Regions from separate parts of the Homo sapiens genome. Here all the other regions are linked to region 1. Evidence: fine-mapped expression QTL. A gene starts in region 1. Each other region holds a variant in brackets. All regions are shown on one strand. Distances are between the middles of the regions. Region 1 holds the start of LINC02883 (long intergenic non-protein coding RNA 2883). Region 2 overlaps AKAP13 (A-kinase anchoring protein 13). Region 3 has its middle 7.9 kb from the start of MIR548AP.

Region 1 (5,476 bases):
GTGGCACTCGCTCTCAGAGCCTGCATTTATCCTGCATGCACGTGTCAGGATGAGACTGTGCCATCCTGTTCCCTCTGCGGTCCCGACGCTGGTAGAGCCACCACAGGGTGGGCTTGGCAGGATGTGTCTCTTGCTCCCATCCTCCCTGGTTCCCCACCATCCCTGCAAGCTGAGTGGAGAAGCTGTGATGAGTCTACCTGGAAATGGCTTTGGAGCCCTGGGTCCTGGCATGGAGCTGGTGCCCATCAGTAGAATTACTTAATCTATCGTGCAACCCAGGAGTGTCTGGAAGCTTCTCTGCGTACCAGAGCAACGCTGCTCATCTCCTTTACCTGCAGAAAGGACAGGAAAGGAGTCCAGCCCTACTAAATTCAACTCAAAAAAGCCACTGCTCCCCTACTGCAAGCCCTCAGGGGCCCGAGCGCCAGGTGCCAAACCCAGGCCAACCCCAGGGCCAGAGCAAGGCCCCTCAGGTTCAGGGGGCCTGGGCAGCTGGGGCCAGACACACAGAAACTGCCAGAGCTTCTGCTGCCATGCTGAGCATGTTTCCTCAGCTTTAAAATGGTGACCTCAACAGTGACTGGGGCTAGGCAAGGTGGCTCTCACCTGTAATCCCAGCACTTTGGGAGGCCGAGGTGGGCGGATCACTTGATCACTAACCTCAGTCAGAGGTTAGTGAAAACAAAGGTGTCATTCTTCTCCCACCCAAGTGCATGGACCCCCTGAATTTGATCCCAAATCCCAAGTTAAGAAGCCTCCGGCCTATTCTAGGCTTTTCCTTGACCTTTAATGAGGCAGAGCCACATCCCAAAGCCCAACAAGGCAAGGGAAGATGCAGGACAATACTGTGCCCGTTCTGGGAAATTCACCCAAATCACCCTGGCTCCCTGGGCAGGGCCTGAACCTCTGCAGGTGCCATGGGCGGGCCAAGCTGCAGGTCAGGTAGGGTTGGGCCTGAGGGAAGAAGAGCAGCTGGGGGGCCGATCACCTTCATGGCCTCTTCAAGTTGGAAGAGACCATTCCCACCTCCTGAAGGAGAGAGGCCGGGCAGATCCATCGGGGCTGGGCCTGGGGCCGGGGCTGGGACATGATGGACGGGGCATGCAAGTTTCTTGCTCTGCGAAATATCCCCCCAGTGATGATCCAGAAGAACCAAGGCTCTTTCCAAGCTGTGCTCATTAGACAACTGCTTCTGAAGAAGTTGCTTCTTTCCCCACTATGATTCTACAGCCTTCGGTGTTGAGCAAGGGATGGTTGCCACACACCCTTGGGGTGGATGACTCTGGGCTCATTCTTGTCAATTCCTGACCAAAGAAATGTCCTTTGAAGGCAGGGAGACCTGGCTGAGCAGCCAGGTGGAGGAGGCAGTTGGCTACCCTCTCCTTGCCCTTGGCAACTTGACAGTCCCCCCAGGCAGGCTCTCAGGATGCCAAAGCCTCCAAGATGGCCCGTTTTCTTTCCTGCATCAGGCACAACCCAGGAAAGCTCCACTGGCCATCTTGGGACCGAGGTTTCCAGGGAGACCTTGCCCCATCACTGATGGGGAAGGCGCCTTCTCCCTTCCCCAAGCCCCATCCCAGACTCAGTCTGACCCCTGGGAGGCCAAGGAACATGGAGCTAGGCCTGCTGGGCAATGACTGGAAGCAACACTGCTCCCAGCCCCCAGCCCCCACAATGTAGCATATGGCTTGGTTTCAAATCCCAGTTCCACTGCTGTAATGTGGCGGCCATTCTCCCCCTGTAAAGGGCTATCTGGGCATTGGTCCTGGTGTTTAGTGCTTTATAGAATTTGACCTCAACTTTTAACCCTACTATCATTAAGTCTGTATCAGAGAATCAAGTGGTTTAACCAAGCTTGCACATACATGAGAGCCACACGTGAGAGCTTGAACCCAAACTCAGGTGGGCCTAGCTCCAAATCCACATTCTGTCAGTTGCAACCGTGTTTTTTCCTCCTCCTCCTCCTCCTCTTTCCAGCATGAGACATTGGGCAAGTTACTGTGACCTGTGGACCCATTTCTTCATCAGCAAGAAGAGGACAAGAATGTCTACCTCCGGGGGTCACTGTGAGGGTTAAAGGAGGTAGTTATGCAAAGCACTGGCCAGTGGGCTTGACAACTGCTTGACAAGAAGGGTTTGACAAGAGCCAGGATCTTGGCAGATGACGGCTCTGCATGCTCCCAGAGAAGCGGGAGGCAGGGCGGTGTGCCCAGGTTCCTTCCAACCCCTGACCCAGCATGTAGAGGAAGAGGCTGCTACCTGTCTAATATCTACGCTCCCTTTACTTGGCGTTGGAGTCCTGGAGTTTCCTCGGGGCACTTTCCAGTCCCGCTCGCAGTCAGGCGTGGATGTGACTGAGTTCTAGCTGTTGGGAAAATGGAGAAGTTATGGTGCAACTTCTGGGACATGCCCTTAAAACAGGCTTGCCCATCACTTTCTCTCCTCCCCTTTCCACTGGCTGGAATGCAGATGGGATGGCCGGGGCTGCGAAGGCCAGGGTGGACCAGGAAACCGCTGCCTTGCATGGAAGACGGCAGGGCAGGGAGAGAGGGGGTGGGAGTTGGAGAGAGAGGGAGAGAGGGGGAGAGAGTTGGAGCCCTGTGGGCCACAGCTGGCTCACACTCACCCTGTGACTGTGTGACAGGGAACTTCACCTCTGCTGCTGTCTGGACTCTAGCTGGAGCCAACTCCTGGCTTTGGATGCCCAGAGTGAAGCGCTCAGGCCTGTGTGGAAGTGGTAGCGTTCACCTGTGGTCCCCACCACTGCTACAGGAGCAGACAGTGCGAGGCAGAGTCCCAGGATGCCCCTCCCAGGGCTGCACCTCTGGGCAGGGGGAGGGACGAGGCCCTCTGTGCTCTTGGCTCTTCTACACGCACCATACTCACCTCTGAGACACACCCGCTCAAGATCATTCCATTTTCTAAGGAATCTGGCGTCATGCCCCTACGCCAGCATCAGAAGCACTTCTTACACTGTGAAGGCGCTATTTGGATTTTGTGGGCCAGCACACCACTGAGCACCACGGAAGCCACTGCTGAGAGCCACCGTGCTGGGGCACCTCCGGGTTCCTGTTCACAGCAGAGCCACCCTGCACGCAGGCTGCGCCACGGCATGACCTTCTCGGGCTGCCCGCTGTCTGAGGGGCGCCTGAAGGTGAGATCACAAAACACAGAACACGATGTTTACCCGTGAGCATACGCTTGAGCTCATGAGGTTCATGGTGACTATGAAAACGCACAAGGAGGGCAGGTAGCCCAGGGCCCACGGTGCAACCAGTGGGCGCAACGGTGCCGTGAGCTGGCGCTGCGGCCGTGAAGCTGCCTCCTGGAGCCATTTCGCCCCTCTGAATGGCGCTCGGGTTATTTTCAGACAAAGGAGCATCAACTGGAGGTTCTGCCTTTTCGAATGGATGGAATTACATTCCCAACTTCTATTTACCAGAGTTTCCAGGAGAGAATCACTCTCAGGAGGGGCAGACAGGATCAGGACTCTCCACGGAATCAACTTCATGGCTTCTAAAGCAACTTCAGGAGGCACAGGAATGGGGAGACCTCTCATCTGGGTGGGTTCCCCCTTCCCAGCTCATGAGAGGGGCAGATGCCAGCAGGCAGGCCTTGAGCCTTGGCTGGTGGGACAAGACCAAAGTCAGCCACCAGCAATGTCTCCAAGACTGATCCCAGCACACAAGGCAGGCAAAGAATTTTCTCAACTCTTTTTATTAAGTTAGAAAACTGATAAAAGCAACACAACTTTTGGGGAAAGCACCATGGCACGTCCTTTGTGCTATGTGATAAGTGTGCTTTATCTCAATGAAGCAACCCCACGGGTCCAGGCACCCTCCCTGCAGTCCCCGCGGCCAGGCTCCTGAGTGTGCCAGCAGAGCCGTCCCCTGGGACCACAGCCAAGTGCCTTCGGGCAGCTGGCCTGACACAGGCGGGGTCTGCTGGGTCTACAGGGTCCAAGGAGCCCCATGCAGCCAGTGCCCCATGGCGGGCGTGTCAGTGGGCAAACCCTGCCCAAAGGTCCCACCCCCAAGAGGCCTCCAGGACCCGCACCAAGGCATGGGGGACACTCGTGGCTGCTTAAGTAACTGGTATGTGCACAGCCCCCTCCGCGGCCCTAATCTTGAGCCAGCCAAGCAGTGTTCACACTGCAGGTGCCTGGGAAGCCCCAAGTTTGGACACCCTGCCCAGTCCCTGTCAGGGCACCAACACCCCTCCCTCTCAAATGGTGGCTTGGGAGTGAGCGAGAGGCATTAGGATGGTCACTGACAGGCGCCAACCTCTCCATAGCCCAGGTGTCAGGGAGGTGCTGGTGAGGGACCCCAGTGACTCAGGAGGTGACAGCAATGAACAAATGTTCAGCAGTTCTCTCGGGGCCATTCTTATCTTGGAGCTCAGGGAGCAAATGGGGGCCAAAACGCAAGAGGATGGTGAGGGTCCCGTCACTGTCCTCCACACTGAGATGGATGCGGCCCTGGTGGGATCTGCAGGGGACACCCTGGGGTCCCTCTGCTGTCTCCAGCTCACAGCTGCTCCTGGTCTTGGAGGGCAGCGTGGTCTCCTGGGGAGAAGCCCCCAGTGCTGTTGGCAGGTGTGTGCCATGGGGGTCACTGCTGCCTCTCAGGGTGGGCTCTGAGGAGGGGAGGGGAGGGGTGACCCCCAGGGCACTCGGAGCCTTGAGTCTGCTGCAGGCCCAGCTCCACTGAGTGGCCACGAGCAACTGTGTCCCCACCGGGCCACAGCACTGAGCAAGGCCCTGAGTAGGTGGGCTGGGACTTACAGCTTTGTGGAAGGGGCCCACAAACCTTGGAGGTCTGGGTGTCCTTTGCTAATAAGGCCTCATGGATGTCACTGAGGCCCCCCTGCAGTTTCTGCACCTTAAAAAATCTGTCTTGGTCACCTTTCTGGTCTCAACCCCTGGGAACCTAGTTTCCCAGGCCCAGGACACCATCTATAGATGGCAGTAGAGCCCCAGCAGGGCAGGCCAGGAGGGAAAGGATGTGTGGCAGTGCCGCAGCCCCAAAGCCCACCCGGGGCGCCTCCCTGCCCCTGCCTGCCCGGCCCCAGTCCAGGACCTGCCAAACAGGTGATCTCAAGGCTCTGCAAGTGTCCTTCTCCCCGACGCCAGGGTCAGTCCTGGTGGCAGTCCATGCCCCTCTGGGAGGTATGTCTTCCCACAAACCACTGCAAAGCTGAAGAGGCCCCCAGGGGCACGGATGCAAGAGATGCTTCTCTTCTCTTGCCTAAAGCTCAGAACAGCCCAAGGCTGCTGCTCCCCAGAGCTGGCAGGGCCCCTTCCACCTCTCGGAGTGCTGGCCCAGGGCCGGCTTAGCTCCCGCTGTGGCAGACAAGCAAGGCCACGCTGTGACACTGAAGGCCGCGGTCTGTGGAGGGAGGAGAGGAAGAGAAAATCAATCAGTGGCCACATTGTTCTGTTCTGACCTGATCTGGAACAAAATGACAATGACACAGC
Region 2 (5,476 bases), 57 kb before region 1:
ACGATGGATGTGACTGTGTTCCAATAAAAATTTATTTACAGGCCTGGCACGGTGGCTCATGCCTGTAATCCCAGCACTTTGGGAGGCCTAGGCAGGTAGATCACTTGAGGTCAGGAGTTTGAGACCAGCCTGGCCAACATGGTGAAACCCCGTCTCTACTAAAAATACAGAAATCAGCTGGGCATGGTGGTGCACGCCTGTAATCCCAGCTACTTGGGAGGCTGAGGCAGGAGAATCACTCGAACCCAGGAGGCAGAGGTTGCAGTGAGCCGAGATCGAGCCCCTGCACTCCAGCCTGGGAAACAGAGCGAGACCTTGTCTCAAAAAAAAAAAAAAAAAAAAAAAAAAATTTACAAATACAGGCTGTGGGCCTAATTCAGCCCAAGGACCATAGTGTGCCAAGCCCTGGGAGAGATTTGCAGGTGCAGACAGAGCTCTCCAAGACATTTTGATGAGTTGGAAAGTCAGTAAATAGAACAATATATACAGCATGATCCTAGTTTATGGAAAACAAACAGTTTATATAAATTTACAAAAATATGCCAGGGATGGTGGCTCACAGCTGTAATCCCTGCACTTTGGGAGGCTGAGACGGGCAGAACACCTGAGGTCAGGAGTTCAAGACCAGGCTGGGCAACATGGTGAAACCCCATCTCTACTAAAAAACAAAAAATTAGCTGGGCGTGGTGGTGCATGCCTGTAATCCCAGCTACTCAGGAGGCTGAGGCAGGAGAATCACTTGAACCCAGGAGGCAGAGGTTGCAGTGAGCCAAGATCACACCACCGCACTTTAGCGTGCGCAACAAGAGTGAAACTCTATCTCAAAAAAAAAAAAAATTCTTTTTACAAAAATATCTGAAAGGCTATACACCAAACTGTTAACAATCTGAAGAAAGAGAAATAAGGAGAAAAGGAGTTGAAGAGGACTCTTTATTTTATTCTTTTAGATTGTTTGAATTTTTAGAGAATGTACTTACATATTATTTGTATGTCTAAAAACAAAATGTAAATATTGGACCACTGATAGTTTCAAAGGTTTTTCTAGTTATTTATCAGCTGATCTCTGATGAAGGCACAAAATAAGTTGGTATTTGATTTGAGAATTTAATGGACAAAGCAGAATTACTACCAGAACAGAGTAAGCTTATAAGCCTTGAGGAGAGTTGTTCTACCACTGTTATTGATAGCACCAGCTTGAATCAGAAGTAGTATAGTTGATCTACCAACTCTCAGTTCTGGATTGTGATGTGAAACATTATCAGGAGATTTAAGGTTGAAAGTTATAGACAGTCTTTTTGAAGACCCAAAGAATCTTGTGCTATAGAGGACAATAGATTTAAGAACCGTTGGCTTATGGTTATAATGAGTGGCTGTACCTTTCCATGACTAGCTCCAGATAATTTTGCAATTTTAAGTTCAGGCTAAAAGAAGTTGTCTAATATATGCCAGTGTATATTTAGCCTTGTATTGCCATTGACTTGTGTATATACATTATTTCTAGGTTACAAATAGTTGAAATTTGCCCTCTTTGGCTATATTAAGTCTTTGTCTACATTAGACTATCACTCAGAATTAAACCTGTAACTGGCATATAATAAATTTATCAGATAGCAGAAATATTCAGTTAATGTAGGAGAATGCACAGGCATCCTAAGCCCATTTTTGCTTTCTTGATATGTCTTCCTGTTAAACATGATAGAAATTCTCTTTTACTGGACTCCCTGGATGATGAAGCACACATAGCTAGGACACCACAAGTTATTAGACTCCTTATGCTATCAGTGTCGTATGTGCTAGAACCGCCTCTGGAGAGCAAGATCTGGGTTACCTCTTGGAGACTTCCATTGCCCAACGATGCCAGAGGTACCCGTGGAGAATCACTTGTGTAGGGTTTGGTATTGACTGGGGAAAACTGTAGGAAAGGTTTGAGGGTCTGAGATTCTCAGCCACACTTCTGTGTAGTAATTAGTTTAATGGATAGGGC[G/A]GTAGCTTTCAGGATGTCAGGTGTTTGGAAGCTCCACAGATTTCTGAATTTGTGTATATTTAAAACTACATAAAAACGTACCTTCTTAAAGGTATAATTCCCAAATTTTAACATCAACATATCAGCTTTAGCTATCAGCCTACCTATTCATTTGTATTTTTCCTTCCATCTCTAATTAATTGAAGATTATACTGTGATTGCAAGGCAAGCCATTAAAAAAAAACTGCTAATATTGGTTATTTATCTACATGAAGAACGTTAAGATGTTCTCTGTGTCATGTACTCAAAATTAAATAAAGAAATTAGAGGTTGTGGTAGGTAAGTGAATTGCGAATGTCATGCACCTCTGACCTCACGTTTTTAGTTCATCACAGCTGCTTCATTGTTCTCATTAACTTTGAAAGTAAATATTAAAATTGCAACTCAAAATAAATCTGTACTGTTTTACATATCTGAACACAGTATATTAATATTTCATATAAGACTTTTTAGAGTTTTTCTAGTATTTTGGAAAACCAGTGAAATAGTGGATTGGCTACTGGTTCTGTGCTAATAGTGTTTATAAGTGGAATGGGACTTTTTTTAATATGAAGTCACCCAAGGAATTTGCTTTTTCTGGAGGCACGTTATTTCATGAAGTCCAGTGTGTTATCACTAGACTAAAGTCTTTTCTGTTTGGGAAGTCTGTCGGTGGGGACAGGGGTCATAATAACCTTTGCTAGTTGTTCTTTGATTTTTGGTAATGGCTTGATCTAATCAAATATCAGAGATTATCTTAGTTCTACCTGCTCAGCAAAAACCAGGAAAAAGAGTTAACATATTTGAGGGGTTTTTTTTGTTTTTTGTTTGTTTGAGACGGCGTCTCACTCTGTCACCTAGGCTGGAGTACAGTGGCGCAATCTCGGCTCACTGCAACCTCCTCCTCCCAGGTTCAAGCGATTCTTCTGCCTCAGTCTCCCAAGTAGCTGGGACTACAGGAACACGCCACCACACCTGGCTAATTTTTTTTTGTATTTTTATTAGAGTTGGGGTTTCACCATATTGGCCAGGCTGGTCTTGAACTCCTGACTCAGGTGATCCACCCTCCTCAGGCTCCCAAAGTGTTGGGATTACAGGCGTGAGCCACCATGCCTGGCTATATTTGAGGTTTAAACTGAAAAGTATCAGACAGCAAAAAGGAATAGTTTAAGTTGGGCTTGACTGTTACCCTAATATGCACTAAGTTTCAAAAATACATTCTTTAATTTGCATACCACCCTACTCCAGAAGTAATGTAGAAATAGTCTCAACATCTGGTGATAGCATTAAGGTTTATGTAAGACAGTCTGCAGCCTGCCTCTTATAAAAAGAAGGGGGTAGGCCAGGCACGGTGGCTCACGCCTGTAATCCCAGCACTTTAGGAGGGCAAGGCAGGTGGATCACGAGATCAGGCGTTCAAGACCAGCCTGACCAACATGGTGAAACCCCGTCTCTACTAAAAATACAAAAAATTAGCTGGGCATGATGGTGGGCGCTTGTAATCCCCAGCTACTTGGGAGGCTGAGGCAGGAGAACTGCTCGAACCCGGGAGGCGGAGGTTACAGTCAGCCAAAGATCGCGCCATTGCACTTCAGCCTGGGTGACAGAGCAAGACTCACACACACACACACACACACACACACACACAAAAGGAGTGAAAAGGATTGAAAGCAACAAAATAGTATGTAGTCATCTTCTCAAAGGAACCAAAGTAATGGGCTGATTATCTTCAGCTTCCTGAAGAAGCTGAATGTTTGTATGTAGGAAGTCCCATGTGTTATCTTGGCAGGAAGTAGAAAATATGAGTAATTTGGGGACGCAGAATCTTTCGTCACTTCCCTCCATCGCGTCTCATGTCCAGGATCTTCCCAGGAGTCGTAGGAAATGTAGCATCCATGCAGTTAGTCGTTTACCTCCTAGGAAACCTTTGTGCTCTTAGGAGACAGTGGCTTCCCATTGTGGTTAAGTGTAACCCTGTTTGGCTGACCCCTGGATAGAGCTTCATACCCTCAGCACTGCATAGTCACCTTTGACTTGTGGTTAGAAAGATCAGCCATATAGTCCATCATGATGATATGTTATGATGGTTTATACAAGAAACTGGGACTTTTTATCTCAGCCAAAACGCTACTCTTGCTTTAGGATTAGGTGACTTTAACAGGGTTAATAGAGGAATGTCTTTTCAACTCTTATTTCTCTATTATGTAAAGCTGTCCTTGAATAGTCAGCTGTTCTTTCCAGCTGCCACAAATAATTTGTTCTTTGAAAAGCTTAGTGACTTAGTGGGGTCTTTCAGAATAAGGAATTTGTTATGTTCAGGTTTTGGGGTCTTGCCAGTGGTTCTGTTTTGCTTGCTTTAAACAGATGTAAAATGATACTGAGATTATTGCTGATTTATTTTCTGTTGTGCTAGCAGCATTTCAGTACTTTTGTGGTAGGTTGTTTCTTTTACATAAAAAATAAACAAGTAAACCAGCTGCAATCTAAGTAGGAAACATAAGAATTTAGAATGTGTGTGATGGTTAGATTTTACTTCTGATTTCATCAGAAAAGTTGCCCTCTAGACAGTTTTCTGGCATTTATAGTTCATTGCTTATATGAGAGAATAAAATACATATAGTTGATTAAAGGAAGGAAGTTTATTACTTAGGGAAAAGGAAGGTAAAAAAAGACCCTAAGCAATAAAGGCAATTCTTTTTTAAGCAGAATACTTTCATTTTATTTCATTTTTGTTTACCAGTGTTGTTACGAAAACTGCTGCTGGGGCTACTTCAGCTGAGATGATTTGGCTCTTTTTTGTGGCTTTCTTCTTGTTCTGTACATCAGCACTGTGGTTATTACACCAGCTACCAAGAACATCTCACATGCCTTTTGCATATAAGCACTCTTAGTCCAGATAGGGCGATGTCTCAAATCCCCCAAAGATTTTATTTATTGGCCAGGTGCCGTGGCTCACGCCTGTGATCCCAGCACTTTGGAAGGCTGAGGCGGGTGGATCACCTGAGGTTAGGAGTTTGAGACCAGCCTGGCCAACATGGCGAAATACCATCTCCACTAAAAATACAAAAAATTAGTCAGGCGTAGTGGCATGGACCGGTAATCCCAGCTACTCAGGAGGCTGAGACAGCAGAATCACCTGAACCCAGGAGGCAGAGGTTGCAGTGAGCCAAGATCGTACCACTGCACTCCAGCTTGGGTGACAGAGCAAGACTCCATCTCAAAAAAAAAAAATATATATATATATATATACACACACATATATTTAATAATTTTTTTTTGAGAGACAGGGTCTCTGTTAAAGATTTTAAACAAGAAGTTTAAAGTTGCAGAAAGAATTTTGTAGCATGCATTTCTAAATTTGCTCATATTTAACTGTTTTTTGTTTTATTTTCATTTTCTTGGTTAGAGTTGAAATGATAGGAGAAAGTTGTGCATTTCTATCCTTAAAGGTAATTCCTCAACTTGTGTCCTGGA
Region 3 (5,476 bases), 75 kb after region 1:
AGTGAGGCAAGGATGGAATAGGAAAGGAACAGCAAGCTGAAGGCCTTGGAGGGGCAAGAGCTGGGCCAGGCAAGTGGAGAAGGCTGGACCCGAGGGTGGAGGCTGCCTAGAGCCCCTTATCATGCAGGGCTGCTGGGGGGCCTGAGGATGCCGCACAAGGGAGGACCTGGCCAGCTGGCAGAGCGATGATGCCACCTGTGTGTTTCATCTGAAGAGGGTTTATGACCTGGGGGCTGTATGTGTCCTGAGGGTAGAGAGGAGGAAAGATGGAAGATGGGGGTCTAGAGGGTTAGGGTAGAGAAAAGTGAGGATGTGAGATGCTGGAGGAAAAGTCTCCTGAAGTTCATTCTGACAGCCCTAGCCCTGTCCTCTAATCTCATCTCCCTCCCATTCCCTTCCCAATCCCCCTAGCGCAGCCTTTTTTTTGGGACTGCCAGCCACCCTTAAAGGGAAGGCCCCAACCCTTCCCTCAATTGGGGACCTCAGGGAGAGCTGGCAGGGCCCTGGGGCCCAGAGGGCTGGCTTCCTTCTTGTCAGAGGCAAAACAAAGGCACCTCCAGGGCTCAATGAAAACTCAGTTTGTTTTCTGGCTGTGGCCAAGGGACACCTTTAATTGCAAAACTTAAAACCAGCCCTTGTTGGAAATTGCGACAAGGCCAGACCATATGGGAATGTTTCCCGATGGAAAGGAGCATCTGTTCTCTATAAGATATGCAAATGACGTGTAATTGCACCTTCAGAGAGCTCTGTTTTCCGTCCCCAGCACAGTGCCCACAGGCGGGGGAATCTGACCATGGTTTAAAGTCCTCAGCCCTCCACCCACAAGACAGAGGATCCACGCTGAATCCACACTGCACGCTTCCCAGATTGAGGGACCCAGACCAGCCAGCGCCCTCTGCTGACATTCTCAGTCTTGTACTCAGGGTCCAGAAGGGGTTGAATAAGGCACACACTGCATTCCTATTCTGTTCCAGGTTTTGTGCAAAGTGGGGTTGTTTCCTTTAATGTGGGAGAAAACCCCAATGAGATCTTTTGCTTTGCAGACAAGGTAACCAAGGCTCGGAGGATTTATGTAGTTGGTCCGACATGTCATCTGGCACAGGGTGGGACTGAGATTCACAGCCAGGACTGACCGCTGGAAAAGCCCCTCGCGTGTCTTCTAACATTTACTGAGTGCCTGGGTCATTTCTTTAGCAAATGTTCTCTTATTCTGTCTCCTGTCTGCGAACGCCTGCACTCTCTGTCTCTCAGTCTCTCTTTGTCCCTCCTCCCTCCTGGGAATGGCTGAATAAGGGTCTTCACAAGAAAGGATCATTCCTTCAAAATTAATGCCGCATTTGCTTAAAATGTATTAGAAATGTGTTACAGCAAAAAGCACTTACAATAGCACTGGTAAAATGAAAATGTACATTAAGAAAAATTAGGCTGGGCGTGGTGTCTCACGCCTGTAATCCCAGCACTTTGGGAGGCGGGAGGATTATGTGAGCTCAGGATTTCGACACCAGCCTGGGTAACATAGTGAAACTGTGTCTCTACAAAAAATAGAAAAATTAGCTGGGTGTGGTGGCACACACCTGTTGTCCTAGCTGCTTGGGAGGCTTAGGTGGGAGGATTGCTGGAGCCTGGGAGATCAAGGCTGCAGTGAGTTGCGATTTCATCACTGCACTACAGCCTGGGTGACAGAGTCAGACCCTTTCTCAAAAACACCCAACAAACAAAACAATCACCAAGCCATTTAGAGGAACCAGCCATTCTCTGCAGGAAATAAAGGAACTAAGAGTTACCTCATCACCACTGCCACCACCATCACCACCATCATCATCAGAATGGAGGTGATGCGGTGGGGCTTCCTGGCGCTGCTCTTCACGGCTTGTGAGGAGCTCTGTGCAGCAGCTAGGCCAGGTGAGAACACAAGTCATGGGCCCTGGAGTCAGCCCTTGTGGCAAGTGACTTCCTTCTCTGTGATCTCCTTTCCATCTGTAAAATGGGGATCATAGTTCCTACATGATGGGTTTGTTCTGAGAGTTCAGGTGCTAATGTTTTTAGAAGAGTGCCTGGCCCCTAAGAAGTGTTTAATACACACTAGCTGTTATTACTTTTCAAGATCTTGCAGGAGACCCCGCATGGTGATTTGAGAACTTCCCGGAGTCCTGGGGTGAGAAACAGTGATCGCTCTGGCTTCTTCCACCAGAGGTACCAGGGTTTTTACCTTTTGTACACATCAGGAGGCTTGAAGACATTTGAAAAACTGCCTTAGGTTATAGGGGTCATTTAATCTCCTTGGGCTCCATGAGGTCAGGGAATGTCACTTACAGCATCCTTAGTGTCCAGAGAGTTCCTGGCATGGAGGAGATGCTTGATAAATTCACGCTGAATTGAATGGTGCCTCCTTTTCCTTTTCTTTTTTTGTTTTTTTGATTTCCAGGGATGTGATTTTGGTTCACTGCAACCTCCACCTCCCATGTTCAAGTGATTCTCCTGCCTCAGCCTCCTGAGTAGCTGAGATTACAGGCACGCACTACCATATCAGGCTAATTTTTATATTTTTAGTAGAGACGGGGTTTTGCCATGTTGGCCAGGCTGGTCTCGAACTCCTGACCTCAAGTGATCCGCCCGCCTCGGCTTCCCAATGTACTGGGATTATAGGCATAAGCCACCAAGCCCGTCATCCTTTTTCTTTTCTATAAAATGTAAAAAGAATGCCCAAGTTTTGGTATGAGTGACCTTTTTAAGGGAGATGTTCTTCCAGGAAAGCACCTTGTTCACATACTCTGGGCCACCGTGCAGGGGCTCTGGAGGTGGTCTGACTCCCCCACCATTTAGTGCCAACCTCAGGGCATAGTGCCTGACCGAGATGGAGGAGAACAAGCCCTGGCGGTGTCTATGAAGCCAGAGGGAGTGGAAGACAGAACAGGAAGGGGAAGGAGGGTGGCCAGTGTCCTCATGGGGAAGGGGCAGGTGGGCGGAGAGGCTGGGAGAGCCGGTGTCTACCCAGAGAATGCCACATGGCACCTGGACCTGGTG[C/T]TCAGGGAGAAGTCCTCTGGCACCCCTGTGGGTGGGTGGGGTGTTGCCAATGGCCAAGATGGGCTTTGGCATAGCTGCTCTAAGCCTGTGGGCATTCTCCTCCCAGCTAGAAAGGAGAGGGGCTGCTCCTGCCTGTACATGCCAGGGGAAGCTGTTGGTCAGCTGCAAAATGAGGACATTCTCAAGACCGGCCTCTGCAGCGGCTGCTCCCACTTCTCCAGCTCTGGCCCACTTGCCATATGTTCTGGGAGGAAAAATCACGTCACTGAGGTTATTGTCCAGTGAACTGGTGATTCTGCTCTGGGGCCTTGTCGGAGCTGGAAGACTTTGTTTTTTGAATATCATTTCCTGGAGAAAGGTTATGGGGGAGGTGGGGGTTGTGGCAGGGTGGAGGGTTTTGCTGGATAAATAGACCTCTCCCCTTGTTTGTCCTGAGGAAGAGAGAATATTTCTGTCTTACAGATGAAACATCTGAGGCTCAGAGAGTGACTTCTCCAAGGCCACACGGCTAGGAACTTGGATTGAGTCTGTCTGGGATATTTTTTCTTTTCTTTTCTTTCTTTCTTGTTTGTTTTTGAGATGGAATCTCTCTCTGTTGCCCAGGCTGGAGTGCAGTGGCATGATCTCGGCTCACCGCGGCCTCCACCTGCAGGGCTCAAATGATTCTCATGCCTCAGCCTCCCGAGTAGCTGGGACTACAGGCGTGCACCACCATGCCCAGCTAATTTTTTGTATTTTAGTAGAGGCATGGTTTCACCATGTTGCCCAGGGTGGTCTTGAACTCCTGAGCTCAAGAGATTCGCCCGCCTTCGCCTCCCAAAGTGCTGGATTACAGGCATGAGCCACTGTGCCCGGCCAGGATATTTTTTCTGAACTCAACCTTGCTTTGCAAACTCTCAGCTCTGCACATTTGTATCCTTTCTCAGGCCCTACCTTCATGGATGAAAACCTCCCAGAGAGGGAGTTCGGAATAGCCCAACACCTACAGCCTCAGGGTTATTCTGCAGATGCCTTGAGCAGCCTCATCATGTGAGTTCCCAGCCCCAAACTTCCCCATTCCCTGGATCTCATCTGTCCATCTGGTGGTGATTGCAAAATGAAGTCACACTTACCCTTGTGCCCAAATTGCAGGTTCCGAGCCACTCATCCCCCTAGACAAGAACATTAGCCTTCAAGGGTCTTCACTCATTCATGGGAGATCTCAGAGGGAGCCTCACACACATACCCACTCTGTCAGTTGCAACCCCAGACAATGCCCACCCCTTTTTCCTTTCTGGTTCTGGTTTCCACCTGTGCACTAGTCACAGTTTTCTTGTCATTATCACCACAAAAGGGGCCACCTGAAGAATGATGTGCTGCTGACGTCTGGGCCAATGTAGCTTGTTCAGTGTTTGAAGGCCCTCACTCACTGCTAGAATCTCCAAAAGACTCTCATAAAGGCAGCTTGAGCTTCCACCTCGAAGGTCTTAAAACTTGTCCAGGCCGGGTGTGGTGGCTCATGCCTGTAATCCCAGCATTTTGGGAGGCCGAGGAAGGGAAATCACCTGAGGTCAGGGGTTGGAGACCAGCCTGGTCAACATGGTGAAACCCCATCTCTATTAAAAATACAAAAATTAGTCAGGTGTGGTGGCGCATGCCTGTAATCTCAGCTACTTAGGAGGCTGAGGCAGGAGAATCGCTTGAGCCTGGAGGTGGAGGTTGCAGTTAGTCGAGATCGCATCATTGCATTCCAGCCTGGGTGACAGAGCCAGACTCTCTCTAAAAAAAAAAAAAAAAAAAAAATCATGCATCCCTACTACATGCAAATCTGTTTAGTCATATAGTTTATACAGTTAGCACTGGATTTATATAGGGTGTACCTTAAAACCATGCACAAAGTAGAAATTACAAGGATGATACTTTTTCATAAATTATAAACATTAATGTATTATGCTCATTAAAGCCATATATAAAAAGAGAAATGTAAAATGGGGACATAAGAATAACTATAAAAATAAATTTAAGAAATAACTATATTGCACTGGATGCAGTGGCTCACATCTGTAATCCCAGCACTTTGGGAGGCAGAGGTGGGCTGATCACTAGGTCAGGAGTTCGAGACCAGCCTGGCCAATATGGTGACACTCTGTCTTTACTGAAATTACAAAAATTAGCCGGGCGTGGTGGTGCACACCTGTAGTCCCAGCTACTCGGGAGGCTGAGGCAGAGGCACAAGAACTGCTTGAACCCGGGAGGCAGAGGTTGCAGTCAGCTGAGATCACGCCACTGCACTCCAGCCTGGGCAGCAGAGTGAGACTCTGTCTCAAAAAAAAAAAAGAAAGAAAAGAAATAACTAATAACTATATTGGCTGGGCACGGTGGCTCACGCCTGTGATCCCAGCACTTTGGGAGGCCAAGGCGGGCAGATTACCTGAGGTCAGGAGTTCAAGACCAGCCTGGCTAACATGGTGAA

What was found. PIP is the estimated chance that this variant, and not a neighbour inherited with it, causes the effect.
Region 2: its variant is the best candidate, but not a certain one, in a credible set for the expression of LINC02883 in whole blood (TOPMed, PIP 0.81).
Region 3: its variant is the best candidate, but not a certain one, in a credible set for the expression of LINC02883 in sun-exposed skin (GTEx, PIP 0.78).

Annotation. Positions count from the first base shown.
Region 1 is chr15:85,755,625-85,761,100 of GRCh38, forward strand. It overlaps LINC02883 (long intergenic non-protein coding RNA 2883), which reads right to left and starts at 3,101. Exons shown (of 6, transcript NR_120366.1): 1 at 2,887-3,101; 2 at 2,627-2,724; 3 at 2,260-2,365; 4 at 198-332; 5 at 1-31. KLHL25 (kelch like family member 25) reads right to left here. Exons shown (of 3, transcript NM_022480.4): 3 at 3,702-5,387. RefSeq lists an enhancer at 4,978-5,476.
Region 2 is chr15:85,698,622-85,704,097 of GRCh38, forward strand. The region is part of intron 17 of AKAP13 (A-kinase anchoring protein 13); the gene reads left to right. Among named protein-coding and RNA genes, the nearest start is that of LINC02883, 57 kb to the right of the region's middle. The variant G/A (reference allele first, on the strand shown) is at 1,985.
Region 3 is chr15:85,830,813-85,836,288 of GRCh38, forward strand. No RefSeq gene overlaps it. Among named protein-coding and RNA genes, the nearest start is that of MIR548AP, 7.9 kb to the left of the region's middle. The variant C/T (reference allele first, on the strand shown) is at 3,025.